4 separate regions of the Homo sapiens genome follow, and regions 1, 2 and 3 are each linked to region 4. The links come from fine-mapping of genetic effects on gene expression. A gene starts in region 4. Each other region holds a variant in brackets. All regions are shown on one strand. Distances are between the middles of the regions.

Region 1 (8,109 bases), 86 kb before region 4:
CTTGTCGCCCAGGCTAGAGTGCAATGGTGTGATTTCGGCTCATTGAAACCAAAGCCTCCTGGGGTTCAAGTGATTCTCCTGCCTCAGCCTCTCTAGTAGCTGGGATTACAAGCACCTGCCACCATGCCTGGCTAATTTTTGTATTTTCAGTAGACACAGGGGCTCATCATGTTGGCCAGGCTGGTTTCAAACTCCTGACCTTAGGTGATCTGCCCACCTCAGCCTCCCAAAGTGATGGGATTACAGGCGTGAGCCACCGCACCCAGCCCTTTTTGCTTAGTCTTGCTTTAGCTATGCAGGCTCTTTTTAGGTTCCATATGAATTTTAAGATTTTTTTTTTTTTTTTTTTTTTTTTTTTTTTTGGTGAAGAATGATGGTGGTATTTTGATGGGAATTGCATTGAATCTGTAGATTGCTTTTGGCAGTATGGTCATTTTCACAATATTGATTCTATCCATCCATGAGCATGGATGTGTTTCCATTTGTGTCATCTATGATTTCTTTCAGCAGTGTTTTGTAGTTTTCCTCGTACAGGTCTTTCACCTCCTTGGTTAAGTATATTCCTAAGTATTTTATTTTATTTTTTTGCAGCTATCATAAAGGGATTGAGTTCTTGATTTCATTCTCAGCTTGGTTGCTGTTGGTGTGCAGCAGAGCTAGTGATTTGTGTACATTAATTTTATATCCTGAAACTTTGCTGAATTCATTTATCAATTCCAGGAGCTTTCTGGAGGAGTCTTTAGGGTTTTCTAGGTATACAATGAGATCATCTGCAAACAGTGACAATTTGACTTTCTCTTTACTGATTTGATGCCATTTCTTTCTCTTGTCTGATTGCTCTGGCTAGGAATTTCAGTACTATATTGAATAGAAGTGGTGAGAGTGAGCATCCTTGTCTCGTTCCAGTTTTCACAGGGAATGCTTTCAACTTTTCTCCATTCAGTGTTATGTTGGCTGTGGGGGTTTGTCATAGATGGCTTTTATTACATTGAGGTATGTCCTTTGTATGCTGATTTTGCTGAAGGTTTTAATCATAAAGTGATGCTGGACTTTGTCAAATGCTTTTTCTGCCTCTATTGAGATGACCATGTGATTTTTTTTCTAATTCTGTTTATGTGGTGTATCACATTTATTGACTTGTGCATGTTAAATCATCCCTGCATTCATGATATGAAACCCACTTGATCATGGTAGATTACCTTTTTGATATGCTGTTGGATTCAGTTAACTAGTATTTTGTTGAGGATTTTTGCATCTATGTTCATCAGAGACATTAGTCTGTAGTTTTCTTTTTTTGTTATGTCCTTCCCTGGTTTGTGTATTAGGGTGGTACTGGCTTCATAAAATTATTTAGGGAGGATTCCCTCTTTCTCTATCTTGTGGAATAGTGTCAATAGAATTGGTACCAATTCTTTGAATGTCTGGTAGAATTCAGCTGTGAATCCATCTGGTCCAGGACTTTTTGTTGTTGTTGTTGGTAATATTTTTATTACTACTTCAATCTCTCTGCTTGTTATTGGTCTGTTCAGGGCTTCTAATTCTTTCTGATTTAAGCTAAGAGGGTTGTATCTTTCCAGGAATTTATCCATCTCCTCTAGGTTTTCTAGTTTATATGTGAAAAAGTGTTCATAGTAGCCTTGAATGATCTGTATTTCTGTGGTATCAGTTGTAATATCTCTCATTTCATTTCTAACTGAGCTTATTTAGATCTTCTCTCTTCTTTCCTTGGTTAATCTTGCTAATGGTCTATCAATTTTATTTATATTTTTCAAAGAACAAGTTTTTTGTTTCATTTGTCTTTGTTTTTTGTTTGTTTGTTTGTTTCAATTTCATTTAGTTCTGCTCTGATCTTGGTTATTCCCTTTCTTCTGCTGGGTTTGGGTTTGGTTTGTTTGTTTCTCTAGTTCCTTGAGCCATGACCTTAGATTGCCTGTTTGTGCTCTTTCAGACTTTTTGATGAAGACATTTAAGGCTACGAACTTTCCTCTTAGCATTGCCTTTGCTGTAAGTGTGATAACATTTAAATGTGAGATCATAGATATGTTACAAAGAAGGATAAATTTGGGGGAAATTTTCTGTATATGAGGATGCTTTTTTTAAAAATATTACTTATGTGCCTGAAAGGCCTGAGGTATTAACCTAGAGTAGACTTGAACCTCTGAAGGGACTTAAATGTATAGAAAAGATAAGAGCTGAGTCAGGATCAAAGTGTAACATGGATGGCCAAAGGCCCATCCTACCCAGAGATGGAGCTAAGCAAAGGCCACTCAGAGAATTCCTGTGGCCAAATTGCAGGGAACACAGTGTGGGGACTGCATATCTCGTAATTTTTAGTACCTTCTGATTTCAAATGGTTTGTCCCATTTTTCCTTTAAGGGCATAAGCAATAAATACACCATTTTCTTTCCAAATATACAGTTTGTGTAGTGCTTGGCTCCCTTGATGTTGATGTTTGCTTGAATTTAAAATAGGTGCCTGTAGGGCTTAGGAAGGCAAAGATTCCATTTGTCCTGGGTCCTGTAGGAATAAAAAAGTAGTACAGGCTAGGCTACATGGATGGTGGAAGTGTACACTGGCAAAAATAAACAATGACATCAAGCATCTGAATGTAGAGCAGTGATCCTCAACCCTCACTGTGTAGCAGGGTCTAATACTTGGTGCCTGGCACCTGCACTCTACTCCCGCTAAATTCATGTTCAGTTGCTCTGTAATGAGGCTCAAAACCTTCCTTGATATGGTACCACTAAGGAGCTTCTTAGAAATGTGGAATGTCAAGGCTCCAGCCCAGATCTACTGAATCAGAGTCAGTATTTTAACAAAAACTTCAGGTGATTTGTATGAACATAAAAGTCTTGCCAGACATCATGGCTCATGCCTGAAATCCCAGCACTTTGAAAGGCCCAGGCAGGGAAGACTCCTTGAGCCCAGGAGTTCTAAACCAGCCTGAGCGACATGGTGAAACCCCATCTCTAAAAAAATATTAAAAATTAGCCAGATGGACTAGCATGCACCTGTAGCCCTAGCTACTCAAGAGGCTGATGTGGGATAACTGCTTGAGCTCAGGAGATCAATGCTACAGTGAGCCTAGATCATACTACTGCACTCCAGCCTGGGTGACAAAGGGAGACCCTGTTTGAAAACACAGAAAAAGGAAGGAAGAAAAGAAAAGAGAAGGAAGGAAGGAAG[A/G]AAGTTGGTTAGTTTGAGAAATACTGCTGAAAGGGATCAGAATATGCTAACCCAAATATGCTACTTTAGCGTAAGGATTATTTTTAGTTGAAGGCAATTGAGAAACAGCAGAAACAGGAAGAGCTCTCTGCCCTCCCCCTTTCTGTCTAAAAGCAGGGCATAGATTTCCTTTGTAAAGATGTTCCCTTCTTTCTACAAGGAAAAAGGGAGCAACTCCAGAGACAATTCTTATCACCAGAGACAACCCAAGTCTGCATAACAAACTTTACAAAACAAAACTTATCTACATTTCCTAGTCACTTTCACAATTTATCACACTTAGGATCCCAAATCCCTTTTTCCTTTGTTTAGTCATTTCTCCACAATTTATCACCCTTTGTTAAAATGGTATATAAGTCACCAGGTCTAACCACCTCTTTGGGTTTTCATTTCTTTTCTGTGAAGCCCCTATGCAAGTAAAAATGTTCACAAAATGTGTATACCTTTTCTCCTGTTGATCTTTTATTAGTTTAATTATAGGCCTCAAGCAAATAACTGAAGACAGTAGAGGAAAAGTTTTTCTCTCCTACACTACTTTGGGAGATGTTTGTGACCTGGAAAGGGGTTTAATGATAGGAAATGCTTGTAGGTTCTCTTTAATACTTTAAACTTGTGCCAATTAGGAGGCCACAAAACATTTGTGTCTGATCCACTACAGGATTATTTACTAGGAAATTTCCCCCCACACTGGAGTACAGTGAGGACTTCAGCTGAATGTATATATTTAGCACTTCAAACAGGCTAAGATCAGGGCCCAGGAGCCAGCAAAAATGGCAGTAGTTGAACAGAGCTCACCTCTGAATTTAGAACAGAGGCTGCTATCTTTCTACTATTTTAGACTTCCTGCTGGCTAAGATCATCCCTTAGCCTAGAGGTATTGATTATAGCCAGAAATAAATCAGAGACTTCTATGCCTGCTTGAGTTAAGAGAAATCAGACTTCACACTCTTGACAGCTCTGCTGGAGCTGAGGTCTGCACCCAGCCAACACAAATCATTTATAAACAGAAATGAGAAGGCACTCTCACAGCATGGTCACAGTCATGGAAAGCATTAAGCTAAAGCAGAGGCTCAGTCCCAAAATTAGCAGTGTCAGCATCACCTGGCCACTCCCAGACCTACTTAATCAAAATCTCAGGAGGTTGAGGCCCAGTAATCAGAGTAATTAGAGTTTTAACCAGACCTCCAGGTGATTCTATTGCAAGCTAATTATTGAGAAGGAAGCTTCTTCCCATGTGTACTGAGCCTTGGAACTTATGTACCAGGCACATTTCTAAGCATATTAACTCATTTAATCTTCACACCAGCCCTATAAGGTGGATACCATTTTTATCCCTTCTTATAGATGAAGACAGTGAGGCTCAGAGCACATTTTACATCATTTTACAAAACTGAAACCAATCAAGTGCCTGGCACTGTGGTGTACTAAGCACTTGGGCACAATGGGGAGCAAAACTCATATAACTGTTCTAGTGGAACCCACAGGCTAGAGTAGCCACTAAGGATATAATCAAACAAACAAGAAGTAAGAGACAAATTGTGTTACATAAAGAGATATCTGAGCCATAACAGTGGTCCCAAGGTTGCCGTCTCACATAGGCAGCAGATCGCTGCTGGCTAGTGGTAGGAAGCCTCAGCTCCTCTCCACACTGGGTCTATCCACAAGTCTATTTGAGTGTCCTCACAACATAAACAGCAATTTAAAAGAAGAAGGTGGAAGCCAAAATGCCCTTTATAGGGCTGCCAGGTTTCACAAATAAAACTACATAACACCCAGTTAAATTTGAATTTCAGGTAAATAATAAATGAAGTGTTAGTATAAGCATGACACATGCAATATTTGGGACACACACTAAATTTTTATTATCTGAAATTCAAAGTTAATTGGATATACTGTATTTTATCTAAAAACCCACCCTTCATTACCTAGGTTCAGAAATCATACACCATCACTTTTGCCATACTTAATTAGCCATGCTGAGCAGCTGTGATTCAATGGGAGAGGAAACTACACAAAAGTGTGGACACCAGGAGGTGAAGATGACTGGGGGCTACTTTGGAGGCTAAGACACCAGATTTGCTACCTGTCACCAAAGGGTTTCTCCAGGGAGCCATTCAGTTTCCTCACATTTTTCCCCAAAAAGGAGTGATCATTCAGCATCTATGATCACAGCATTATGGTATCAAGACACAAAATAAGAATAATAAGAGTAATTCCCCTGAAGGAAGGGGAAGGTGAACAATTTAAGCTTTTCTTGAAGCCACTTCCTCAACAGTGAGATCAATGTTTGCATGTGTCTAATTTTAATATCTATTCAAAATTATATTTTTACCTACTATGCAAAAGGCTTCCAAACAATAGGGATGCTTTTCTCTTTTTTTTCTTTTTTTTTTAATTTGAGATGGAGTCTCACTCTGTTACCCAGGCTAGAGTGCAGTGGCGCGATCTCGGCTCACTGCACGCTCTGCCTCCCGGGTTCATGCCATTCTCCTGCCTCAGCCTGCCGAGTAGCTGGGACTACACGCGCCCACCACCACGCCTGGCTAACTTTTTGTATTTTTACTAGAGATGGGGTTTCACTGTATTAGCCAGGATGGTCTCGATCTCCTGACCTTGTGATCCATGTTCCTCGGCCTCCCAAAGTGCTGGGGTTACAGGTGTGAGCCACCATGCCCGGCCGAGTGATGCTCTTCTTATATTCCCTTTATGGTTTGATTGATGATCAATGTGGGTATTTTTTAATCACCTTCTATGTGGACTTTTTCCTCCCTCTTAAACAAAACAGTATGTCGCTTTTCAAGATCTTTAAGTCACTACAAACCTTTATTCTCTTGGCTAATAATATTGTGAAATGAAAGACTTAACATTTTCATAATATGAATAACATAATGTATAATGTATAGAATTTTATCAGCTGTTTCGACTTGGAAAGCAATTGACCAGAAGTAGAAATATTAACCAGCATTTCTTGAGTATTTACTAACATTAGGGAATTTTTCATGCCTTTTAAGCCTCACTGAAAATCTGCAATGTAGGTATTGTAACTTGATTTTCTCTTCTCGCATTACAATTTACCCCACTAATAGATAAGCTGAACACATACATCATTCTATTAAAATATTTAGAGATCAGTATTTAAATACCTGCTTCATTCTGCCCAGCTATAGGCATTAAAGAAGAGCAGGCCTTGAGCCAGTCAGAGCAGAGGTGTGAAATGGCAGCTAGGTTTTTATGGTAAGATTGACCAGGTTCTGAAAATCAAGATGTCAAATACTAGAAAAGAATATGGCAGCAAGAAATAGTTTGATAATGGGCAAGATACAGGCTGAGGTGGGCGATCATGAGGTCAAGAGATCGAGACCATCCTGGCCAACATGGTGAAACTCCGTCTCTAAAAATTATCTGGGCATGGTGGTGGGCGCTTGTAGTCCCAGATACTCAGGAGGCTGAGGCAGGAGACTCGCTTGAACCCAGGAGGTGGAGGTTGCAGTGAGCCGAGATTGCGCCACTGCACTCCAGCCTGGCAACAGAGCAAGACTCTGTCTCAAAAAAAAAAACCCAAAAAACAAGAAAAAAACCTTATATCTCAACTCCTGCAAAAGTGTTCTTTGCCTATTTTATATTGGATTTTATTGTGACTAATTCTGAAAGCTCTCATTCATTGAGCATATTACATATGTAAGGCACTGTCCTAACTGCCTACCTATGTAGGCACTGTCCTAAACAGGGTGCCCATATATAATCCTAATCCTCACAAAGGCTCTTAAAAAATGGCTTTTTCCCGCACATGGTAAAACTGTTTCAGAGATGCAAAGTAACTAGCCCAAGTTTTCAAAACTGTTCAGTATTATAGTTGCAGCATGACCAAATGTTCCAATGCAGAGTTCTTGGTCACTCTAACTGGTTGTATTCATATGCCAGATCCTTCTGAATCCAAAGCTCGTGTTCTTTCCATTACTCAACAGTTTCTTTGTTGAGTTGTATAGTATCTACTTACCTCCCACCCCCATTACAGCAATGCTTAGCACAACACTTTACATAACAACACTAAGTAGATATTGAATAAATGAAGGGATGGATGAATGGATAGTTTCTATAAATAGAGTTGTGTAATGATAATACCTACTAACTATATTCAGTAGTATGGGTAGGAGAGGTTACAGTCATAGGGCTTAGATATCCTGGGGGTTTGTGTGTGTGTGTGTGTGGTTTTGCTTGTTTTGTTTTTTTTGTCCCATTAGCTTTAAATAGAAAGCTGTTAAATGTGCTGGTAAATGCTAACAGCCCTTGGGGACAAGAAAGGATAGATGTTTACAGTGTGGGAGGATAGACAGTTCGAGTTTTTGTGTTGCTGATTTCCCATCTATGATGGTCAGTTTCAAGCTACCAAGGCAATGTCATTGCACACAGAGTTGGGGAAAGATGAAGCAGTACACCATTATATTACATTTCTATCATACACTTACAATAGATGGAGATAACCTCAAGAACATGGAAATAATTAAGAGGTGGTCGATTTTAATATATTATCTTTGTTTTAACATCATTTATTTAATTTAAAACTTGCATAATCTAATTTTGAAGAATGACTGTGTTTAACAATCAGCTCACCAAAATCCTAAAAATGGAAAATCAGTTCGTAGGAACAATCCATTGCACTAGTTGGCATGCTCCTGGTCTACGTAGTAGCCCTACAGATTTCTCCCACTGGAGAAATTACTAATGAACAAGCTGGTTCAGGCCAGCCCTATCATCATACCTGAACCAAAAAAAAAAAAAAAAGAGGAAACTCAATAAAATCCCTCTGATATAGAAAAAGAGCAGGGCATCCCTACCAGAGATAAGTACCAAAATCATCTAGGTGAAACTTTAGAGGATTTTAGA
Region 2 (8,109 bases), 150 kb after region 4:
ATTTTGGAAAACAAAATGAGGGAAAAAACCCATCCCCTTAATAAAATTATTCCAACACAATTGGTATTTTTAAAAAATATATGTTGTCATCAAGTCTCTTTTGTATAAATCTGTTTTTACATAGATTTGTAATCATGCTTTTTTTTAATACTTAGACATATTGCTGGATTTTTTAAATCCAGTTTTCATAATTATTATTTAAAACAGCTGTATAACAGTTCATGAAATAGATGGTTCATCATTTATATACAGAGGTCTTCCTATTTTTTTAAATTTAAGTTTTTATTGATTTTTACATATATATAAGTAAACTATACTATCTTATTACTATATATTATGTGAATCATATTGCCATATATGTTCCTATACTATATAATATTGGATTATATTAATTCACATTACTTTCTCCTTGTTTTAAAAATGTCCTGAGGCTAGAGACCTGCAAGTGGATACACTGGGTTAATGGGTATGGCTAATCCATAGCTTTTAATACACATGCCAGATTGCTCTCCAAAAGGGCTGAGCCAATTATGAATGAAAATTCCAGTTTCAAGGCAATCTAGCTCCTAATCTTTATAACTACTTTATCCTGCAACTTAGGGAGAGAAGCTGATGAAGGACCAGTTTTTTCCATGCTCTGTGAAGAAGAGAATAATGGTTGCGAAATCAGCTTCAAGTGATTATTAGGAGAGAAAATTGACATCTTTCTCTGATAAGGCAAATTGGATAACACATTATGCCTAGATGTTATACTATTTACAGTCTTAGTCTCTATTGTGTTTCTATTGCCTCTTCATATTTTATAGGTATGTGTTATTTTATTCATAAAGATTTTGATAAAGTCATACTTTTATAGAAAAGTTATTCAAGTGTGGAAGCATGTGTCAGCCTCCAACTCAGCTGATTGTATCATTTCCTGCTCAAAACCCTCACCAGACTCCATTACTTACTAAATAAATTCTGAATTCCTTATTCTGACACTTGAAGTCCTTCATTTTCTGGCCTTAAGCTTCCTTCCATCTTTATCTCTTACTAGAAGTTCTCTACACAGCAGCCAATCAGTGATTCTTGCTATTCCTCAAACAATACTTCTTCCTGCTCCCTATCATGGGTTTCACCTTTCCTGTCAAAATTTCACTTGGATTTCAAGGTGTTTAGAGTCATGCCCTCCCACAGCTTTTCCTGATTCCTGACATGTTTCTCCTCCCAAGTGCCTGTAATTTCTTCCTCCTCTGGATCATGGTGAAAGTTTTGCTTCTCTCTTAAAGCATTTATCACATTCTATCTCATAGTACTTGTGAACTTGTCAAATACCATTAAGTTGTAATATTCTTGATGGCAGAGAAACTTCTTATTTATTTGTTAACTGCTCACAATATTTATCAGTGTGCCTTACATATAGCAGTTTCTTAATAAATATTTGTTTAAATCAAGTATATAGGTTGGACCCAAGAGACCCCAATTAGTGTCCTGATCTACCGCTTAGTAGCAGCTATCAGAATATAGACATAAAATCTCAAGAGGAAGTAATTAGACATCTATACTTACGTGATAACTGATGCAAACAATTCTGACCCTCAAGTGTTTTGAGATCTTCAAGTGTGTTCCGAATCATCAAAGATAAAATGATCTGGTAGACTCTTTCAGGTTGCAAAACAACTAATATATATCCAGGCTACTTCAATTAGGCTATATATTGTAAGGATTCAAAAGGAAATGAAGAATGATTAAAAACAATCCATTTCCCACACTGCCCCAGCTCCTGGAGGACCAGAATTTTTACCTCTTTTCTAGTTTCTCCTTGGCTCCTCAGCACAGGACCCTGTTGCTCCCAACTCCTGAACTTTGCCATTATGGAAACTAAGCTTCCGTTGGTCTTTGCTACCACTGCTGTCAAGATTGACTTTGTCATTCAAGTGGAAGATTTGACTGGCCAGCCAGTCCCAATCTACTAGTGCCGTCAAGCCATCTGTGGTTGGACCACAGTCTACAAGGCAGCCAAACGCCAGAGTTTTTAGACTGGGGTCCCACTTGTGTCCCACTGTGGCCCAGCTAGCGGTGTTAGGATGACTGTGAAAATTGTGCAAATTCTGGCCACTTATTCACCTAAGGAATTGGACATGAGACTTACACTCCTGGCATTAAATCTCTTAAACAGGTTTAGTTTTTGACTGTTAAATTATTTTCTAATTTTATGAAGTTGGTAATTCATATGTTGTATATAATCTTTATTAAACCTGAATTTTATGTCAGTTGGGACTTTGTCCAATTTTGACAGGTGTTAATGGATATTCTGCTTAATAATAAGTACTGGCCAGGCACAGTGGCTCACGCCTGTAGTCCCAGCACCTTGGGAGGCTGAGGTGGGTGGATCACGAGGTCAGGAGATCGAGACCATCCTGGCTAACACGGTGAAACCCCGTCTCTACTAAAAATACAAAAATTAGCTGGGCGTGGTGGTGGGCGCCGGTAGTCCCGGTGATTCAGGAGGCTGAGGCAGGAGAATGGCGTGAACCCAGGAGGCAGAGCTTGCAGTGAGCCGAGATTGTGCCACTGCACTCCAGCCTGGGCGACAGAGTGAGACTCCATCTCAAAAATAAAATAAAATAAAATAAAATAAAGTGCTAACTTTGCCAGGCACGGTGGCTCACACCTGTAATCCCAGCACTTTGGGAGGCTGAAGTTGGTGGATCACCTGAGGTTGGGAGTTCGAGACCAGCCTGACCAACATGGCGAAACCCCATCTCTTCTAAAAATACACAAATTAGCTGAGTGTGGTGGTGGGTGCCTGTAATCCCAACTACTCGGGAGGCTGAAGCAGGAGAATTGCTTGAACCCGGGAAGTGGAGGTTGCAGTGAGCCAAGATCGCACCATTGCACTCCAGCCTGGGTGACAGAGCGAGACTCCATCTCAAAAAAAAAAGTACTAACTTTATCAAGCACTTACCATTGCAAATGTGTCTTCTTTCATCTTCTCAAGAACTCTGTAAGATACTTTTTTATCCTCATTTCATAGAAAAGGCTCAGAGAAGTTTATTAACTTGTGTACAGTCACAATTAAGTCATAGAACCGGGATATGACCTTAAGTTGGTTGGGATGAAAACCTGTCCATGAACCACACTCAAGCATGGACAATGTAGAATTTGAATTATTATTTTATTTTTATTTTTATGTTTTTAGAGACAGAGTGTCTCCCTGTCACCCAGGCTGAAGTGCAGTAGTGCAATCATAGTTCACCGCAGCCTCAAACTCCCAGGCTCAAGCCACCCTCCCACCTCAGCTTCCTGAGTAGCTGGAATTACAGGTGCTCACCACTGTGCCCAGCTAATTTTTAAAATTTTCTGTAGAGACAGGGGTCTCGTTATACTGCCAGGGCTGGTCTTGAACTCCTGGGCTCAAGTGATCCTCCCGCCTCAGCCTCCCAAAGTGCTGGGATTACAGGCGTGAGCCACGAGCGGAGTTTGGATTATTTAACCCTCATTTTTCTCCAAGTAGAAAACATAACAGGTTTTATGTAAATTTTAACTTTTTCATATCTCAGGGTGAGCCTGGATATTTTGCAAGTGAAATGAAGAGTAAGTATCGAGGCTCAGGAAGCACACCCGAACTTCAGTGTTGTCAATATTCCTGCTTATTCCACCGTGACAGGTTTTCTCCCCACCCTTCACATTTTTATTCTCAAATATTATATGGAAAAAAATGTGCTCTGCACTATGACAGAGCTTTATGCTAAAGGGCTTTCAAGAGAGTTAGTAGAGAAGTAACTTTGCTCTGTGTTTAAATAGCTTTCCTGAAAATATCACTCTGCTCAAGCGTTAGTGTTGCCTTTATAAATATATACAAAACCATTGGAACAAATGAACTTAAATTTGCAAAACTTCGAAGAAAAAATAAAACATGATCAGATCGCTCTTTTCATTAGAAGCTGAACTGGGTTCACAATTGCATTTCCAATTCAATTAAAAATGTAAAATTCACTGCAGTCTCTCCTACAATGTTGTACTCCTTTTATCTGGAATTTCAGGTTTCTTTTTTCTGTTTCCTGGGATTTGCAAAGTAGCAAAATCAGCCAGTTTACATTTAAGATGTTTTGATTCTTTTCTCAGACTCTTGCCAGTGTACTTAACACAGAATGATTAAAAGCTGTGTGTTCTGTTAGAACTGTTATAGTGTTTAAACAAGGAAGTCTGTGTTTGTTTAAGAGAATGGGGAAATGGTTATCTTGACAGATTAGACTGAAAAAACAGGACAGCCACAGTCTAGAACAGATGTC[C/T]ACATTTGCCACTTGGCTGGCTTTTTGAGGTATACTAAACAAAACTTGCTTGTGTGCTTGTGCCTCTGTTCTGCTTGACACCTGACTGAGGAATGTGATTAAGAGCTACTGCCAGGGCCTGCGTGCCTCTGTGGGCAAATGTTCCCAGGTTTGAAATTTCTCAGCGTCTGTTTAACTATGTCATAATTAAACTAATGGAACACAAGAGAAATTTCTCTAACGGGCTTAAAGACCCCGTTCAACTGCAGTTTCATCTCACATCACACACGGTTCCCGTGGCTTCACTGAAAAGTTGAAATGAAGCTGAACAGAAGCTGCAGGGTACACCACATTAATCAGTCTTTTAAAAATGTGATCTTAAAAACTGGATGAAACATCAGTGGCAGTTGTGGTTTAGTGGGAATAGCACTGTATGAAAATTCAGGAAACCTTAATGCAAGCCCTAACTCTGCCATTTACTATTACAGCTGTTTGATCATGGTCAAGTCCTCACTTAACCTTTCTAGGTTAACGAAGCTATTGTTGATGATACTGATGACAACAGCTTGTGTTTATTAAGCCCGTATTCTGTGCCAGGCAGTGTTACAAGCTTGACACGCAATACTCCATCATACCCTCAAAAAAGCCCTGAAAGGTAAATACAGTTAGCTTTGCTGTTTCCTATGGAATCTCAGCAAACTAAGAACTTTGCTCAAAGTCAGATATCTAATGCGTAGCATACCAGCTAGGGTGTTTCCCAGGTCTAACAATTATACTTTATTGGATTTCTGTCTTTTCAAGGAGGATCTCCAAGGTAATTTCCATTTGTAAAATTCAATATTTGTGAAATCTGAACATATGAAAATCACTTTAAATATGTCAACAAATAAAAAAGACTCAGACTTACCCTTTTATAGTTGTGGTTATGCATAGATATCTACATTGCCTCATTGCACAGTTTACCATAAATATTAACATATAATTTTTAAATCAAATTTATGAAAGTATAGAATAGCCTCACTACATGGTATTTGCTCACTCAGATTTGGGGAGTTTAAACCTCTGGAATGTGGGATTATGACTTTTTACAGAGGAATAAATTCAAATTATAGTGTACAGTGTAGGACTTTGAGATATGCTTGCTAGCTCATATAAGAAATGATCAATTTCTTGGTCACTGTCTTTGTTGTATTTATTACTATTTATATAACTTCATTTTAACTTTATAATAATATGGATGATATTTAAGTATATTTAGTCTGTATTTAGAAGTTATTCTACTGCAGCTTTATTGGTAACAAAGAAAGAAAGGTTTCCATTGGCTTACTTTAAATAAGTAAGATCTTTTGACTTATCTCAAATATATTCTCATGTGGTATGTGAATATATTTTCCAAAAACCATGACAGCACAGTTTTGTTGTTGTTGTTTTGTTTTGTTTTTGAGACAAGGTCTGGCTCTATCACCCAGGCTGGAGTGTAGTGGCACAATCTTGGCTCACTTCAACCTCCACCTCCCGGGCTCAAACCATCCTCCCACCTCAGCCTCCTGAGTAGCTGGGACTACAGGTGTGCACCAGCATGCCCGGCTAATTTTTGTATCTTTTGTAGACATGTGGGGTTTTGCTACATTGCCCAGGCTGTTCTCAAACTTGTGAGCTCAAGCAGTTCACCCACGTCAGCCCCCAAAATTCTGGGATTACAGCCGTGAGCCACCGTGCCCGGCCAACAGCACAGTTTTTATTGAAAATATAAAATTTGAAATGTCAAAGTAGCAAGTGGCAGTCCACTTCTTCCCTGGCTGTGTTGTCAGTGTTACTGGGGTTACCCAGGTCTTTGGCAGACCAGACAGGATTATGACCATGGATTCTACCGGCTTTATTCTTAGAGACTAGCTAGAGCATCCCATTAATGCAAAGTCTAAAAGACTGGTTTGAAGAATTAAGCATGCACCAATTTTATATATCTGTACATATTTATTAATCAAATAAAATGTATTTAATAATTACTTCTTGTGCAATTATTTAAATGACTTATGGTAGTGTCTAAGCTCCTTTAATCTTTACCTGAAGACAGTCAGCCTGGGTAGCTTCATTTCTAGTCCTCTTGCCTTACTTTTACTTCTTTTGGCTCTAACCCTGCTCCCTTGTAAATCTCATTCCTAACATTTGGAACCACCTTTTACTCTACATCTGCTATTTTTCTCTCCTACCACTTCTGTTCAGGATAAATATCTTGAAATTCTAACCTCAGCCGTCAATGGATCAAATGATGAAAGGACTTATCCAAAAAGCTATTTTGTTTACCACAAAAATAAGAGGCCATTTCTCCCCAAAGAGGAATCTATTGTTTTGTCTTATCTCCTTTCGAATGAAAGAATTGAACAATTGAACCAGCAGGGCCACTTGTTTATCCCCATGCTGACACAGTGCCATGCAGTTGATATTAATAGATAACAAAGGAATTTCAGCGTAATTACTTCTTACATACATTCTTGGCCATGTGTCATGTAATTTCCCTGGTTTGATTTCCCCAGGAATTCCTAACGCTAGGAATTTAGATTAGTTTCTGCTAACATTTAAGATCACCAAATTGAGGCTGTGATCTCCATTTCAAACATAGCTCAAAGATAAATACAAATAATGAGCTTCAATATGTTGAGTCATGGTTAGGAAAAGTGAGGTCCAAATCTTCAGAGGCTGTTTGTCTAGGATGAGTCATGTGGTCTGCCCCTTCCACAGCTGAGCATTTACTCCGGTGAAATCAGGTAAAGCAATGATCTGAGACAGGCCACAGAGCAGTCTGTGAGGTAGGGGTGAGTGAGGCATGCCTGGGTATTTGAGTTGATTTATGGGGGACTTGTGTGTTTATGAAACTCGTGGGTTTTTGGGTTTTTTGGTTTTTGGCATCACTGTCTAGACTGCTTCCTTCTTCCTGCTCCTCACCCCTTTTCCAGAACTAGTGCTAGCTTGACTACTGTTGATCCATGGATTGTGCATGCAAAGCTCCAGGCCAAAGATGTTCACCAGGGTTTAGAGATAAACAATTTAAAAAATATATCTTTCAAGCAGTGCTTCACCCACTTGGGTTATCTGTGAACCCACTTTTCTAAAATTTACCAAATCTTAAAAAAAGTTGACCTACATTTTAATTTAAATAAATGTATTATAGAAGGAAACAAGATATCCCATGCTATAAATAGGAGACTCCATTCAAAACTGTGGAGACAAAACAATGGAGTTTAGACTTTAAATGCTAAAAAGGATCTGAGTTTGAGGCCTGTTCTCTTTTTCTGAAAGAGATGTCAGGGTTAGAGAGGTGGCAACCGCATACCAGTGCCAAACTAAAACTTTCTCCTTGGCTGGGTGTGGTGGCTCACGCCTGTAATCGCAGCACTTTGGGAAGCCGAGACAGGTGGATCACCTGAGGTCAGGAGTTCGAGACCAGCCTGGCCAACATGGTGAAACCCTGTCTCTACTAAAAATATAAAAATTAGCAGGGCATGGTGGGTGGGCGCCTGTAGTCCCAGCTACTGGGGAGGCTGAGGCAGGAGAACTGCTTGAACCCAGGAGGCAGAGGTTGCAGTAAGCCAAGATTGCGCCACTGCACTCAAGCCTGGGCAACAGAGTGAGATACCATCTCAAAAAAAAAAAAAAAAAAAAAAAAAGGCCAGGCGCAGTGGCTCACACCTGTAATCCGAGCACTTTGGGAGGCCAAGGTGGGTGGATCACAAGGTCAGGAGATCAAGACCATCTTGGCTAATACGGTGAAACCCTGCCTCTACTAAAAATACAAAAAATTAGCTGGGAGTGGTGGCATGCACCTGTAGTCCCTGCTACTTGGGAGGCTGAGGCAGGA
Region 3 (8,109 bases), 110 kb before region 4:
GTCTGGAGTTTGAGACCAGCCTGACCAACATGGAGAAACCCCATTGCTACTAAAAATACAAAATTAGCTGGGTGTGGTAGCACATGCCTGTCATCTCAGCTATTCTCGGGAGGCTGAGGCAGGAAAATCGCTTGAACCTTGGAGGCAGAGGTTGCTGTGAGCCAAGATTGTGCCATTGTACTCCAGCCTGGGCAACAAGAGCCAAACTCTGTCTCAAAAAAAAAAAGGGGGGGGGAGGGAAGCAGGCACTTGCCAAAAAGGGCAAACATTAGAGGTGTCCTCACTTTGTAACTACCTGCATTCTTGGTAACTAACCCAGTCCCTTGAGAGTGAGAACTCACTCTTGAGACAAAGGCATTGAGACCTCTTAATGACCTAATTGCTGTTTTTTTTGTTTTTTTATTTTTTTGAGACAGAGTCTTGCTCTGTTGCCCAGGTGGGAGTGCAGTGGCGCGATCTCGGCTCACTGCAAGCTCCACCTCCCAGGTTCATGCCATTCTCCTGCCTCAGCCTCCCAAATAGCTGGGACTACAGGTGCCCGCCACCACGCCCAGCTAATTTTTTTTTTTTTGGTATTTTTAGTAGAGATGGGGTTTCACCATGTTAGCCAGGATGGTCTCCATCTCCTAACCTCGTGATCTGCCCGCCTCGGTCTCCCGAAGTGCTGAGATTACAGGCGTGAGCCACCGTGCCTGGCGCCTAATTGCCTTTTAAAGGTACCACCTCCCAACACTGCCACACTGGGGACCAAGCCTCAACATGAATTTTCGTGGGGACAAATCATATTCAAACAATAGTAAGGTCCAAACTAAAGCACTAACATGGGCAATAAGTATTTTCCTCTGAGTGGTGCATGGAGGAAGAACTTCATGTTTATCAAGAGTTATTATCAGTTGGCAGGGACAGTTGACAAGGTTTCCAACTGCACCCTTCTGTATGCCACTTTTCTCCCTGTAGTGGGAAGATTTTCCACTGCCCACGCAGGGTGTCATTTGGCAAACTGTCCCCCGTTCTTCCTTTTATATTTTTTTCTTTTTAGAGACAAGGTCTTGCTCTGTCACCCAAACTGGAGTACAATGGGATGATCTTCGCTCACTGCAACCTCTACCCCACAGGCTCAAGCAATCCTTCCACCTGAGCCTCCTGAGTAGCTGAGACCACAAGCACATACCACCACAATCAGCCAATTTTTAAGTTTTTTGGAGAGATAAGGTCTCCCTGTGTTGCCCAGGCTGGGCTCAAGTGATCCACCCACATTGGCCTCCCAAAGTGCTAAGATTACAGGCATGAGCCACTACATCTGACCACTGAGCCACCAAGCCCAGCCATCCTTCTTTCCTCCCTACAACCCACTATGCCTTTTGTGAACCAGATAATGCCACTGTTCTGCTCTCAGCTAATGAGAACAGATGGGCACATAATCCAAGGAGGATCAGTCTACAGATTGGCTAGGTGACCAGTGGCCTATGATCCAGGTTTTGGATTGCAAACGTGAACAGAACTAACTGGACTCCTATCTCAGGACATGAGAATCAGAAAACTGTTAATGAATCATGGAGCCACCGAAGAAGTGGGCAAAGATGGTACTAAGAATGCTATGAGATTGTCAGGTTTGGAAAGGACACTGTAAGCCAAAGTTACATGCAAGCTGAAATTATGAGGGAAAAGAGAAAGTCATATATTAGAGAAAAAATGCATCAGATACACAGGGAGAAGTAGATACATCTTGTGAGATGACACAGTCCATGAGGATGATGGCAGAGCTGCTTGCAAGAGCTGCCTTTGTGTCTAAGTCTTGCCATTTCAAGGTCTCTCCATGTATTTCTTTACCAATAAACCCTTTTGTTGAGTTAACTGGAGTAAGTCTCTGTCCCTTGCAGTTTAATAAACCTAATTGAAACTCTCTCTTCTATTGTTTCTTCTTCTATATCTACCATCTTCCAATGTCTCTTATTATCCTTCTAAGCCCCTTTCTTTCTTTTTTCTTCTTTTCTCCCCCATGCCTCATCCCTACCTATGCCTCAGGCATACTGCTAGGGCCCATCCTTATAGAAGACCCTAAAAAATGGAAAAGAAATAACACAGCAGTCTGGATATTTTTTAAGTGGCAACTTTATTGAGATGTGTATCATAATTCAGTATTTTAAAGTATACAATTTAGTGGGTTTTAGTATATTCAGAGTTGTACAGTCATCACAACTGTTTAATTTTAGAACATTTTCATCATCCCAAAAAGAAATCCCATACCCATAAGCAGTCATTCTCCATTTCCTCCTCCCCCTAGTCTCTGAGAACCACCAATCTACTTTCTGTCTCTACAAAGTTGCTTATTCTGGGCATTTCATATAAATACATTATGTACAAAATACAATAATTACAATACATGAGTAGCTTCTTTCACTTAGCATAATGTTTTCAAGGTTTTTCCATGTTGTTGCATGTACGAGTACTTCATTTCATTTCATCATTGAATAATATTCCATTGTATGGGTATACCACATTTTGCTAATTCACTCATATGTTGATAGGCCTTTGGGTTGTTTCCAGTTTGGGGCTGTTATGAATACTCCTGCTGTGAATATCTGCATACAGGTTTTTGTGTAGACATGTTTTCAGTTATCTTTGGTATATACCTAGGAATGGAATCGTTGGGTCATATGGCATAATGCAATATATTTAGTTGTCTTTTTGCTCCCCTTTCCCTTCTGCAGACCTTTGGCAGGTTTTGCAGCTATCACTCTATTATTTTCTTTATATTTTCTTTGCACGTTCCTGTTTTCAGTACATCTTTCCATTTTTCTCTTCTCTCTACTTTTCCTTTTATCTCATTATTTGAGTACATTTTTTAAAAAAACTCATCCTTAAGTAGCTTTCCCTGATGGCTTTTATTATATTTCCTTTACAATATTTTTCTTCTCTCTCCCTGTTGCTGATAATGCTTGAATAAACCCAGCTTCACCTAGAGGGAAATAAGTATCATGTTAGATACTTATTTCCCTCTAGGAATAGAATGACTTGAAGTAGTTCCGTAGAGTAAGAACTTCATAAACAGAAGCACATATTTAAGGGTGCATAGACAGAAGACTACAGTAGCTCATATTTAAATGACCATTGTGGTCATATTTTTATTCCTGTATTTGCCAAGTCTGACCACAAAACTTGATGTTGACCTGCAGTCTCTTCCATCCATCCATCTAAACAAACTGCAAATACAATGTGACTCCCAGGTAATTGCTGCGCTGCTGCTATAGGCTATGTCACCATCAGCAGTACTAACCCTTTGCCTCGGGCACCATATGAACAGTGACAGGCGAATCACCCTGATGAGATGAAGAACTCTAA[G/C]TGGATTGAGGGAGGCCTTTGACTCATCCCAGCCCCACAGCTTCCCACTCAGATGTGCTCTTACATTATTCCCACTGTAAACTCAAGTCAGAAGCCGAAAAGCACCAATTTTGCTCAGGGAGATGATTCAGTATTTTTAAAGTTTTTGACTGCTGACCAATTAAAAACCAGATGATACTGTTAACAACCTCTAAATAAGCCACGATTTAGAACCATAGAAGGCACCAAAGCACCTACCAGCCCTCCATGCTCAGTGTGAGTTTGAGAGAAATTCAAAGATAATTACAATGATGAGGAGGATGCTGATGACCTTAGGGATACTGGGCATGACTCACATCATTAACTGGAAAGCAGCAAATTCTGTTTCCTAAATATATCTCCAGTGAGCCTCCTATTTACTCCATTTCAGTATTTTTTTTCAAGATTCTGAAATAGTATCCATTTCCAGTTAATGATTTGACTGCTGCCCAATGTCCCTAAAGCCTTCACCATCATCTTTACCATTGTAATTATCATTGAATGTTTTTATACTCATACTGGGTACGGCTGCATATTAGATGAAGTAATGTGGCTGATTTCACATGTAACTTAAAAAGCATAGTTTCATCCATATTTAGTCAAACCACGTAGTTTATGCTATTGAAAATCTACCATTACTAAGACATTTGTTAACAAGCACTTTGCTAAGCCTTTCAGTCTGTGAATGGGGAAGTTGACACATTTTTCAAAAGGGAAAGCCACACAAGCTCATATTCCTAAAATTCATTAATATCATCATTTTGTAAAAGCCATTGGAGATTTTTCAGGACAAGGAGTGACATAAAGAAGCCTGATCCCCAAATTGGTTGGCATTGCCCTTAACTTACAATTTTGAATACTATTCATTGTGTCAGGCAATAGGACTTTTGAGGGTATGGTGGATACGAACAGTAATGAGTTTTGCTTTTATTTTAATTTTTGTGCTCTTTATTATCCAATATACCAAACCCCTTTCCAAATAAAGAGCTGGTGCCAATATCAGTCAGGGATTTTCTATCCATGAGTGTATTCTTATTCCTGTGTGATCAGACTTCAGAAAGAGTTCTAAAACAAGCAGTGCTGGTGGTGCTGGATTTTAGAGCAGAGATGCTATAAAAAGTGCACATTAGAGAAGTTTTGGATAACACAGCATGATGCAAATTGCTACCATACGCATCACTTACTGGAACCACGCCGATCTCAGCAGAGGGGACAGGAGTGACATCACCAGCACTGTGACTTGAACCACCCTCAGGAAAACACAGCTGATGGGACAGCAATGGTTGTAACAGCACAGAGACCTAGCAATGCACGCCATGTGAGACCAATCAAGAAGCAGTTGCTGGAGTTCTCAGTTTCATTTCTCAAATTTTATAGCTAGACCACATAAAAAAATTTATAAGAGAAGCCTGGGACATTTGGAGGCAATGAAGGGAAGTGGCACACTGAGCATCATTTTATTTTGTTCTTATCAGGTAAGAAATCACCAGAAATGAAAGCTTTCATAGTATCAGCGTTAATAACAAAATGACCTGTACAACAAGAACAGTTCAAGGGCTACTCTGTCCATTTCCTATGCCAAATAGCTCTTGCATTAACACTCTTGCTCTCTTCCCTAAAAGCTCACAGTGTTGAAATTAGAGAAGCCCCAGGGGTTACAACAGGCCAGAATACTGGGACAGACCATATCTAAATGATGCCAGACACTGAGAAATGCTATCAAGGACCAGCATTTTAAAAAATACCTAGAGAATTATCGAAATTTGTTCTGGCTTATTTTATTTTATTTTATTAGTATTTTTTGAGATAGTCTTGCTCTGTCACCTAGGCTGGAGTATAGTGGTGTGATCTCGGCTCACTGCAACCTCCACCTCCCGGGTTCAAGCAATTCTCTTGCCTCAGCCCCCCAAGTAGCTGGGATTACACGTGCACACCACTACACCCAGCTAATTTTCATATTTTAGTAGAGATGGCGTTTCTCCATGTTGGCCAGGCTGGTCTCAAACTCCTGACCTCAGGTGATTCGCCTGCCTTGGCCTCCCAAAGTGCTGGGATTACAGGTGTGAGCCACCACGCCTGGCCCTGATTTATTTTAAATTTAGTGTCAGCTCTCTGGCAATCTCAACTTCTCCTCTTTCTCAATCCAGTGGTTGGCTGGACATTCATTCTCTTAATACTCAGATGCAACCACTAGCTGACCATGAACTGACTCTGTTTCCTTTTGTTCAAAAATATTTATTAAATACGTTCTATGTGCCAGGTACTGACTAGGTGCTGGAGATGAAATGATTAACAAAACAAACATGATCCTTGCCCTCATGTTGTTTATATATTTACTTGTAGGGGAAGAGTAAGGGATATCAACCGAGTGCCACTCAAAAATGTAAGTAGGAACCACTGTTGTAGGAAAACAAAACAAAACAGGTGTTATGAATGAGTGTATGGGAGGAACATGCTTGGTCAGGGAAGACCATACCAGGAAATAGAACCAGATACCTCTTGCCACCTTCTCTTGTAGTGGCATCATCCATGATCCCTTCGTTCTATTGCCAGGACCATGGCAAGAGCCTTTGAAGCAGATTTTCTGATTCACATCCTTATCCCCAACTAGTTCATTTCCATATAGCAGCCAGAGGGAGCCTCCCAAAATGCATGGGAGGTAGTTTCTCTTTTTTTGAGACAGAGTCTTGCTCTGTCATCCAGGCTGGAGTACACTGGCGCAATCTCAGCTCACTGCAACCTCGCCTCCCGGGTTCAAATGATCCTTCCACCTCAGCCTCCCGAGTAGCTGGGATTACAGGTATGCACCACCACACCTGGCTAAGTTTTTTGTATTTTCCTAGAGATGGGTTTTCACCATTTTGGCCAGGCTGGTCTCGAACTCCTGACCTCAAGTGATCCACCCACCTCGGCCTCCCAAAGTTCTAGAATTACAAGAATGGACCACTGCGCCCAGCTCATGGGAGGTAATTTCCTTCCCCTGCTTGAACTTGTAGTGTAAAGATTAAAGTCCTTTCATGGCCTTCAAGGCCCTAGAAGACCTGACGTCCTGCTATCTCTCTGCCCTCATCTCCAACCACTGTGTTTCTGCCACACCGGCCTCTTTGTTGTTCTTCAAAAGACCGAGACTGACCCTTTCTCAGGGCCTTCCAAATTGTGGCGCCTCCTCCAACAAAGCTCTTCCCCCAGATGTCTGCAGAGTGTCCCCTTCACTTAACACAGACTCTACTGAAATGTCACTTTGCCAGGTCCGCCTTTCCTGCCAATCTGTATAAATGAGGAGCGTCCCACCAGCACTCTCAGGCCCCCACTCGGCTTTCATTTTCTGTACCATACGATATATTGTGTTTCATTTACTTATTGTCTGTTTTTTCCCACTAATGTGCAAACTCATGAAAACAGGGAGCAAACTATGAGGAAAAGCTGAGCAGAGGGAGCAGCGTGTGGGAAATCCTGAGACAGGAGAGCTTGGTGTGCTGAGCCACTGACAGCATTGTGGCTTTATGATTTATCTGGAACCACAGGTGCCTCCAACTCTGAGAACTGATCAAGGGCTTGGACAAAAGAGTGAAAATACCACTAGGAAAAAAAGAGTCCCCTCTGTGCAAAAAGAAGTCCAGATACATAGAGGAAGAGAGGGAACAAGAAGAGAGAACTCAACTTCCACTGCTCAGCAAGGCACAAAAAAGATCATGCTTTAAGAAAGAAATTCTCATTAAATTTCATGATTATTGTTTGTTCTTTATTTTCCTGATAAGATCAAATGAAAAACACCTGCCTTTAAAAAAATTCCTTTGAGAAAGTTGGTTAGGAGAGATAGTTGCTTTAGTATGACTCAGTAGCCCACATTTTCAATATCTCTCACCCAGTCTTCATCATTGCCAGGCACTTGTTAAGTTTACAGTGCCATTTTTTATGATAAAAGTTAACAAAAATGTATCAGAAATGAATTATAATCATTTTATTTAACTATTTTTTTCTGGGTGCACTGTGCATTGAACAAACATTGAGTATCTACTAAATGCCAGGCCCTGGGTTAAGGTGCCAGGGACACGGGGACTCTGCCTTCAAGGGACATCCTGGTCTACCAGCAAGTCAGGTAAAATACCAAAGATAACAGAATTGGTGACAAGGCTACGACAGGTAAACTGATCTCGTAAACCTGAACTGGAAGGAGAATCAAACATAACACTTCCTGAATCTTGAAACAGGAGCAAGCATCACTAAGGCCAAAATTGGGGGAAGACTCTTACAGGTGGAGAGAGCCAAGGAGCAAAGCTCTGAAAACACCAGAGAACAAGAAGTCCTAGAGGCCCGGTGGCTCATGTCTGTAATCCCAGCACTTTGGGAGAGTAGTACTTTGGGATGGCTGGAGGCCAGGAGTCTGAGACCAGCCTGGAAAACATAGTGAGACCTTGTCTCTACTTAAAAAAAAAATTAGTGGGGTGCAGTGGTGTGTGACTGTAGTCCCAGCTACTCAGGAGGCTGAGGCAGGAGGATCACCTGAGCCCAGGAGTTTGAGGTTACAGTGAGCTATGATTGAGCCAATGCACTCCAGCTTAGGCAACAGCAAAACTTTGTCTCAAAAAAAGAAAAGAAAAGAAAAGCCCTAATGGAGGAATCCTTTAATTATGTGCATCAGGGACAGGCCATTAATGGGCTGTAATTTTAAAAACCAGTTAAAATGAGGGAGCACACAACACGCACACACACAAAAGTGTACACTTCCCTCAAATATTTAAATACTCA
Region 4 (8,091 bases):
CCTTCCCCACCAGTGGGGTTAAAGATATGGGGGAAGAGGAATTCTGACCCTTCCACAGTTTAAATACGTGTACTGGGACTGTTTAACAGTTAATCTTCCTAGTACATTTAACTTTCATAAGTCGATTTTTTAAAAGATGAGGCTGGCCCGAGGTGTTACTATGTTTAGCTGGGGCCTTATTTTAATATTAAGTTTTTCTTTTTTGGAGTCACATAACACCAGGTGGAAAAGATTTGTTACTAATTCCAGGGAAGAACCATTCACATAGTGTTGGTTAAATGGTCGCCTGCGTTCACACTTCAGTGCCTGTAGACCAGAGCCCTGGAAACAAAAGGGTTACTTGTTTCCCCACCATCGCCTTTACCCGCAGATCGATTTTTCTTATTTAATCAGCGAGTAAAAAGAGAGACACAGGGAAGAAAAAAAAAAAAAACTGCAGGAAGGGCAAAGTGGTGGGGGGAGGGTTGAAAGCCAGAAGCTGCAATACAGAAAATCAGTCTTGGGAGTTGGGCTGCGAAGTCCTTGGAACAAGGAAGGGAAGCCGGCAAAATGCTCGCAGTCAGTTCCACACAGCCAGCCTCCCTTTTCTCTTCGCTACGCGCTAGCGGCTCGTTTGGCTTCTCTCTGCCACCGAGCGATCACATACATTATTTCCCCCAAGATAACACAATCAAACTTGTATTTACCGACATCCTCTCCTCGCAGCCTGTTTGAGATTTGTTTTAATAAATAAGTGTTTTATGTGAATGATGTAGTAATTGAAAGGGGCGCACCATTTTTTTGCCTTCTTACTGCGGGAGGTTCCTCAACCCCAATCTGGTTGGAAAATAAAACGCTTTGTCTCCACAACCACCCCCCACAGCACCCCCACCCGCTCTCAGTGTGTGTTTTATACGTGTGTATATCTCAACCCCCTACAGTAGCCAAGAGAAAGCAGCTAGCCAATGAGAGAGCCCAGTTTCATAAAAGCTGCTCTCTGATTGGCCCGATGCGAAAGGGCACTGGGAACAAAGAAAAGTCCCTTTCAGGTATAGAGGCTGAGAGCTTCTTTTGCTCCACTCCCCCTGTGTGTGTGTTGTGTTTCAGTCCTGATTTAGTGTTGCAGAACAAGCTTGTTGTGTGTGTGCACCAGGGGGATTTTTGTTTTGCTTTTTTTAAATTTTAATTTTTGCTTTTATAAAAAATACACAGGACGGTCTGTGACATTTGATGGTCCATCTTCTTTAATAATAAATTTGTTGAAGAGATTATAATTTCCAAAATAAAGCGGCTGCAACCAAACACATTCAATGCAGTTAGAAGGAAAAGGTCAACTCGATCCAATACAGACCGTAAGTACGGTTGCGTGGTGTGTCTCTATATAGCACTTAGCGGGGACTTCATGCAGGGGAATGTGCGAGTTTTATGCATAGAAATGAGGAACTAGTTACAGGGTTTGGCTTTTGCATTTAGAACAACAACCCAAGAAGGGTGAATTTTATTCAGTGGAGGGTGAAGCATTTGTAACTTCACACAAATTAAGCTTGACTGGGCACTCGGGGTAACTTAGAGGAAATTAGCTTTTGGGCTCTAACCCAAAGGAGAATAAAAGTGACACAGTTGCATATCCTGGTCTGCAGTGTCAATTCTCTAGCTCACCTTACTCCCTCCCTCTTCTGTCCTAGCTGGGCAGACCCCCCTCCCAAAGCGATCCAGGAAAATGGGGGCAAGGGCAGAACAAGCCGATTTCTGTCTCCTGTCAGATCCCAGTGCCCGATAATTTAATATTAAACAAGGGAATAGTCACTCATTACATGTAATGGTTATAATTACCATTCGCCATCTCCTTAAAAAAGCAAGCAACAAAAATACCATTAAGAGAAAAAATAAAAGCCCCACCCAACCCAAACAAACCCACAAATAGTAACAATGGTGTATTTATTACAGGACCAGGCTGGGGAGCAAGCAAAAGGTTTTTCTTTGTTTAATACATGAAGTGGGGGTCCCTAAAATCCAAGTAGCTCGGAGATACCCTTCTCCCTCCCCCAGGCGTCCCCGTCCCTGGCCCCTTGGGAAAGCCGACAAATTGGAGATAAGTTGAGGAAAGGTTTATAAAGTGTTTCTTTAAAACATCTGCTTTGCTCTTGTGCTCATTACATTTCGCTCCTTCCGAACTTCGGAGATCCTAGATCTCCGAGAAATGTTTCACATTCATAACTTGTAGCTTCGCCCACTGCGGGGGGGCGGGGGGAGGAGGTTGGGGGAGTGTGTGCAGGGGGAGGGGAGAGACTTTCAGCTTTTTTTTTTTTAAAGACCAGATCAGTATTTTCTTGATACGCTTGTCACCATTTTTGTTCTCACGACAACCAATTGAGCCCTTGATCCTCACGTGATGTGAAAGGCTTGCACTGTAACAAAATCGCTCCTTTTAGATGGTTGGTTGTTACTAACTCGCCCATCCCCCTCTCCCAGCCCCGACATTTCCAGCAAAGCGACTCTCCACTTCCAATCCATCAACAATTCATTACTGCTTTTAGCTTCCAAACGCCAGCTAATTAAAAATACTAAGCCAAGCTCCGGGGCCATCTGACTAAACACAGGAGGGGCTGGGCGAAGGGAGAGGAGAGAAAAAATAAATAAAAGGGAGACACACCGTTTGCTGCGAGTATAAGAGGGAAAAACTCCCGAAAAGGGTCGCCTTAAAAAAAAAAAAAAAGAAAACAAAAACCTTATTTTGACTCTAATTATCGAATTACCACATGACTGGCTGACCTGAGCGACAGAGGATTCCACTCCCCTCGGGAGCTATACTAGGAACTCAGTTCCTTTTTCTTAAAACAACATAAGACAGGAAAACATCACATCCTTTAGGTTTCGAAGACTGAGCCCATTTTAAACGCCGTTATTTTCCCCACCCCACCGCCCCAAGCCCCCCGCCCCCCGCCCCGAGCGAATGCTGTTATAACTGGTTTATCAGCTCACTGAATCATCTGCTGTCTCCTCCTCCACACCTTTCTTTTTCTCCTCTTGCCCAGTTTCTCATCCCACCCTTTCTTCTCCTCCTCCTCCCTCTACTCCCCCCCTCCTTTTCTCTTAAGTTAGTTCAAGAAATCAAATCTGTCAGGACGGGCGGAAAAATGCCACTTCCCGACTAACAGGCGGAATCCAGCCCAGATTTTCAGTCCTTTCTTCTTATTCTTTCTTCCCTTTCACTAATTTATCCCGATGTTAGCACATTCTGTCTCGTTACTAGCGGACGCCTGTAGGTTTGCTACATGGGATCATTACTGATCACGGTGACTCTGAAGTCTGGAACTGAAGGCGGAATGAGAAGTTGGGAAAACTTTTTTCTCTAAACTCTCTGTTTTTTAAAAAACTATTATTCTCGATGCTTGTTAAGAGGAAAAAAAAACCTTTGGTGCTTCTGTTGTGAATGTGAAACATTATTTTCCAGCTGTACAGTGACACATTTTTTTTAAGGAGAAAAGGACTGATTCGTTTGCCAAAAGGGGGGTGGGGAGGTGGAATAATGTTATCGAGTGATTATTCTGGCTGAGATGTGTTATTTGGTTTCTTCCTTCTTGATCATTTGGTGTTTAAGTAAAATGAGGCACAGGCTTGTTTGCCGAGTGGAGTGGGAAAGGCATTTTGATTTGCTGGCCTAATTAAAAAATGATAAAGGATTAAAAGGTAAGCAATGTCTGTGTGTGTGTATGTGTGTGTGTATGTATATTTATTTATTTTTTTCTTGACAATCAACTGTTAAAAAGGGGCTGATCCCTTTAAAAACCGTTTTAACTGCTCTTTGTCAAACACACTCATTTGCGGTCATTGAGGCCACCTTGGCGCAGATCACTTAAAGTGTATGTCTTAATCAGTTTTCTGTACAGTCAGTAGCACCGTATTTAAGAGAGTGAGCAATTCTCTGACCTAGGAATATGGTAGAATTGTTTAAATGTATTTTTTTCTCAAAAGGCAGGTATTTAACTTTTTATATAACACTGTCTTTTCTAGAGAGAAATGCTCTTAAAAGACATGCATATTTCAAAAAAGAAATTGTAGAAGCTGTTTGGGAAAAGAGGATAGGAGGGAGGTATGTGTGTGTGTTGGGGGCAGTTATTGGTTGTTTTTTCTGTTCCTTACTAGGAACAAAAAACAGATTGCCCAGACAATTTGTAAAAAGAAGTACTGAAACCTAAATTAGAAATAAGGAAAATTTAGCAACATTCTATTCTGAAAACTAGCCTCAGAACTTCCAGGGTCTGGTCTTCTAAATTGCAAGATCTAGGACATGTTTAGGGATGTTTAAAGCTGTGTTCTTCCTTCTTGTCTGAGTGTTCAGGCTGTGTTTCTGGGGTTGAGATATCACATGTGCCAGACTGAAATCCTAAACTTTAAAAAAGAACACAAAAACCTTTCTGGACTTGAATCAGATCCTTAAGATAATTTAATGCTTTTAAAAAGGTGATTATCCTTGTGTTGTTGATAAAGGGATTTTCTTTTTAGCTACCGTAAGATGCTTACTGTCATAGGTTTATTTTTCGGGTTTGGTTATTTTCCTTTAAACCTGATATTGGACTGTGAGGACAATACATGAGCCACCTTACTCTCCATCCTTCCCTGTCCCCTTTACTGATTCCCCAATACTAATCGTTTTTTATTCTGGTAACACCCAGACAAGAAATATTCGACTTTTCCCCCCCCCTTCACAGGAAAAGGTGGACCTGGACTGAGGGTGTAAAATCCCTGGACACATTCGTGGGGCAGGAAAAAGAAGAGGAAGATTAGAAGATTTTTTTTTTCTTTGAGAGAAAGCCCAGCGGAGATAAACGAATGTCCCCTCATCTCCAAAGAAAAGTTCATCGGATTTTTATTCTAGAGAGCTCATCTTCAGGATGTCAGTGAACATTTCTACTGCAGGAAAAGGTGTGGATCCAAATACAGTTGATACTTATGACAGTGGCGATGATTGGGAAATCGGGGTTGGAAATTTAATAATTGATTTGGACGCTGATTTGGAGAAGGACAGACAGAAATTTGAGATGAATAATTCCACCACCACCACTAGTAGCAGCAACTCCAAGGATTGTGGAGGTCCGGCCTCCAGTGGGGCTGGTGCTACCGCAGCCTTAGCTGATGGCCTAAAATTTGCTTCTGTTCAGGCCTCTGCTCCCCAGGGGAATTCACACAAAGAGACCAGCAAATCAAAAGTGAAAAGGAGTAAAACTTCTAAGGATGCTAATAAATCTCTGCCTTCTGCTGCCTTGTATGGGATTCCCGAGATCAGCAGCACTGGCAAGAGGCAGGAAGTCCAAGGGCGCCCTGGAGAGGCAACTGGCATGAATTCAGCGCTGGGTCAAAGTGTGAGCAGCGGCGGCAGCGGCAACCCAAACAGCAATAGTACCAGCACCAGCACCTCTGCCGCCACCGCGGGGGCAGGCTCCTGTGGGAAAAGCAAAGAGGAGAAGCCAGGTAAAAGCCAGAGCAGCCGAGGCGCCAAGCGGGATAAGGATGCGGGGAAATCCAGGAAGGACAAGCACGACCTGCTTCAGGGCCACCAGAATGGCAGTGGCAGCCAGGCCCCTTCCGGGGGGCACCTCTATGGCTTTGGGGCCAAGAGCAATGGAGGTGGCGCGAGCCCCTTCCACTGCGGGGGCACTGGGAGTGGCAGCGTCGCCGCTGCAGGGGAAGTTAGCAAAAGTGCCCCGGATTCAGGGCTCATGGGAAACTCTATGTTGGTAAAGAAGGAAGAGGAGGAGGAGGAGAGCCACAGGCGAATCAAGAAACTGAAAACTGAGAAGGTAGGATAAAGTCGCCTTCCTAGATGTCCTACTCTCCTCTGTGTGCATTTGTGTGGGTGTGTGGGGGTGTGCCTCTGTGTGCCTTACACTTTATGCTTTCTGGTTCTTTGTGAGATTTCTATGATATGCATCCTTTATATTAAAATTTGATATGGGGGAGCCTACTTGGGTGCAGTGTTTGGCTCTTGCTTCTGCTGTCCTTGCTGCTGCTGCTGCTGCTGCTGCTGCTTGTGATGCTAGTGTTTGGGTTCCCAGGTGGGAGGGCCTGAGTGTTCTAAGTACCTTTTGCCCTGTAGATCGGTTCCTCACTAGTCAGCAGGTTGCCGTGTGCTTTTAATAGAAAACCTGCTCATGCACCCTCTTGACTCTTGTCCTGCTTTCTTCCTTAAGGGGAACAGTTTTCTATTTTAATTTATTCATCCTAGTATTGCGGGTAATGTGTCCTTAGGTGCAAGGTTCAAGTTCCCTCCCTGGAGAGGAATGTCGAGGATTCGAATTTACATTCTACAGACCTCATCCCTTTTATTTTTTCTTACTGTCTCCAAAATAGTACTGTGAAAGGATATCCTTGAATGAGTTCTTGTTATTGGTCCTGAATGAAACCCCAAGCTTGATGTGTTGGGTCATTGGTTTCATAACTGCAGAAAAACTCGATGGTTTTGGTGGCTGTTAGCACTCTACCCCTGTTCCCTCACCCAGTTCTTAGCTAGAGATTTAAGAGTGTTATCACTTGGATACCTGACTGGGGAGCTGGACGGCTGCTAAGAAGAATAAAACAGACTTGCTGGACTGATACTCGTGAAATGTGAAAATGTAGCCAAAGGGGATGTAGACGGTTGAGTGAATTGGAATATAGAATTATGTGCTGCATTTAAACGGTGTGGATGGTTGATTTAGACCATTTGGACCCTTCTCCCCTTCTTTGTACAAGTCTATAGTTAGACACTGCCTTGGAAGAACTGCCTGCCCCGACACCCACACCATGTTTTGCTGCTTAGTCATAGACCACATTGACTAATGTTTGGGAACAGAAGGTGTTCTGTCCACTAGGCAGGTTGGGAAGGAGTTAGGGGTGTGTGTGTGATATTTCTATGAAATTAATCTTCATATTAATTCTACAGGTTGTGCCTTGCAGAAGCAAGCTTTCTGTCATGTGGGTTGTGGCATGGTTGTTGGGGAACATCCTTATTAAATAATTTTGATTTTTTTTTGCTATAGTTGGCGATTGGGATTGTAAGTGGTGATAATATGTCTTTGGAGAATTATTTCTGTGTAAAATGGTTCACTGCTACTTAAACTTTTATATTCTTGTTTTTGTGTTCAGGATTTAAGTTGGAGTATAGGAGTAAAGTTTTGATTTTTAAAAGTTGATAGAGGCACATTAAGGTGTAGATAATGCCAAATTTGCAAAATGCCTCCAAACGCTTATAAATTCATATCCTCTTGGTCAGGTACATTAATGAATATAAATGAATTTTTGAAAATTCCGGGTTTTGAGTCTTATATTTAAATGTGTAGTTTCACATTATTTCCGCTAAAAGGTGTTCTGAAATCTTCTTATTACTTAGTACAGTAGGGCATTTACTTTTGTTGCCAATAGTCTTCAAATTGCAGTTCTAATCTGCTTTAACTATCTAGATGAATTGCCCTAATCCAGTGCTCACAATGGCTGTGGTTAAGGAGTCAGAGCCATTTGATTGGATTCACTGGCTGCTTGGAATGTGGGAGGTACTGCCCTTTTGCATTCCCCTTAGCCTTTTAATCTTCCAGCCAAATGTTCACATTCAACAATTTTGTTTAGCTGGCAATCGGAACATTTCAGTATCTAAAAGGCTGCTGTCATGGCAACTGAGATTAGAGCGTGGTGTCGTTTCTCCAGTTTTTGTGTGTTCTTTTCACTTTCCAGTCACAGAGGAAACTGGGTGAAGAATGGAAGAATTAAATTATTCATATACATGCAACTCATCTTCAGTTAGAGCAGTATAAATGTGATAAATATGAATTACATAAATGAAGAGCAAACAAGTCATGGTGGATCTGGGGTGGGGGAGGGAAGAAAGCACACTGCAATTTAGATTCACTTCTGATCCTATACCAGAGGAAGCTGTGCCACCAATCTTAGCCACTGGAGTTGGCACAGGGGCCCCTCAAAGGCTTGGATCCAGGGGCTTGGATCCTGTAGTGTTGGCCATTCTCTGTCAAGTTGGGCGTTGGCTCAGGATCTCAAACATTATTCCTTAAGGCTTTCCTCCCCACCCCCACTTCACCCTGAGAATGACTTCTCTTAAGAATGCTTTCATCCTTGGCACAC

Direction of the effects. Positions count from the first base shown, and alleles are read on the strand shown. Sizes are in standard deviations (SD) of each study's normalised expression. Not every link is listed here.
With allele C in place of T in region 2, the expression in thyroid of the gene that starts at base 3,225 in region 4 is lower (moderate effect, 0.66 SD a copy in GTEx).
In carriers of allele G in region 3, the expression in whole blood of the gene that starts at base 3,225 in region 4 tends to be lower than with C alone (small effect, 0.28 SD a copy in GTEx).

Evidence for each region. PIP is the estimated chance that this variant, and not a neighbour inherited with it, causes the effect.
Region 1: its variant is fine-mapped to the expression of ZNF608 in whole blood (TOPMed, PIP above 0.99).
Region 2: its variant is fine-mapped to the expression of ZNF608 in thyroid (GTEx, PIP above 0.99).
Region 3: its variant is fine-mapped to the expression of ZNF608 in whole blood (GTEx, PIP 0.96).

The regions. Positions count from the first base shown.
Region 1 is chr5:124,828,126-124,836,234 of GRCh38, reverse strand. No RefSeq gene overlaps it. Among named protein-coding and RNA genes, the nearest start is that of ZNF608, 86 kb to the right of the region's middle. The variant A/G (reference allele first, on the strand shown) is at 3,187.
Region 2 is chr5:124,595,918-124,604,026 of GRCh38, reverse strand. No RefSeq gene overlaps it. Among named protein-coding and RNA genes, the nearest start is that of ZNF608, 150 kb to the left of the region's middle. RefSeq lists an enhancer at 4,161-4,220 and a silencer at 4,324-4,538. The variant C/T (reference allele first, on the strand shown) is at 4,275.
Region 3 is chr5:124,855,688-124,863,796 of GRCh38, reverse strand. No RefSeq gene overlaps it. Among named protein-coding and RNA genes, the nearest start is that of ZNF608, 110 kb to the right of the region's middle. The variant G/C (reference allele first, on the strand shown) is at 3,343.
Region 4 is chr5:124,741,773-124,749,863 of GRCh38, reverse strand. It overlaps ZNF608 (zinc finger protein 608), which reads left to right and starts at 3,225. Exons shown (of 10, transcript NM_020747.3): 1 at 3,225-3,669; 2 at 4,692-5,780. The coding sequence starts at 4,875. RefSeq lists a silencer at 868-1,107 and enhancers at 987-1,985, 2,113-2,292, 1,986-2,984, 5,024-5,093, 4,933-5,626 and 4 more.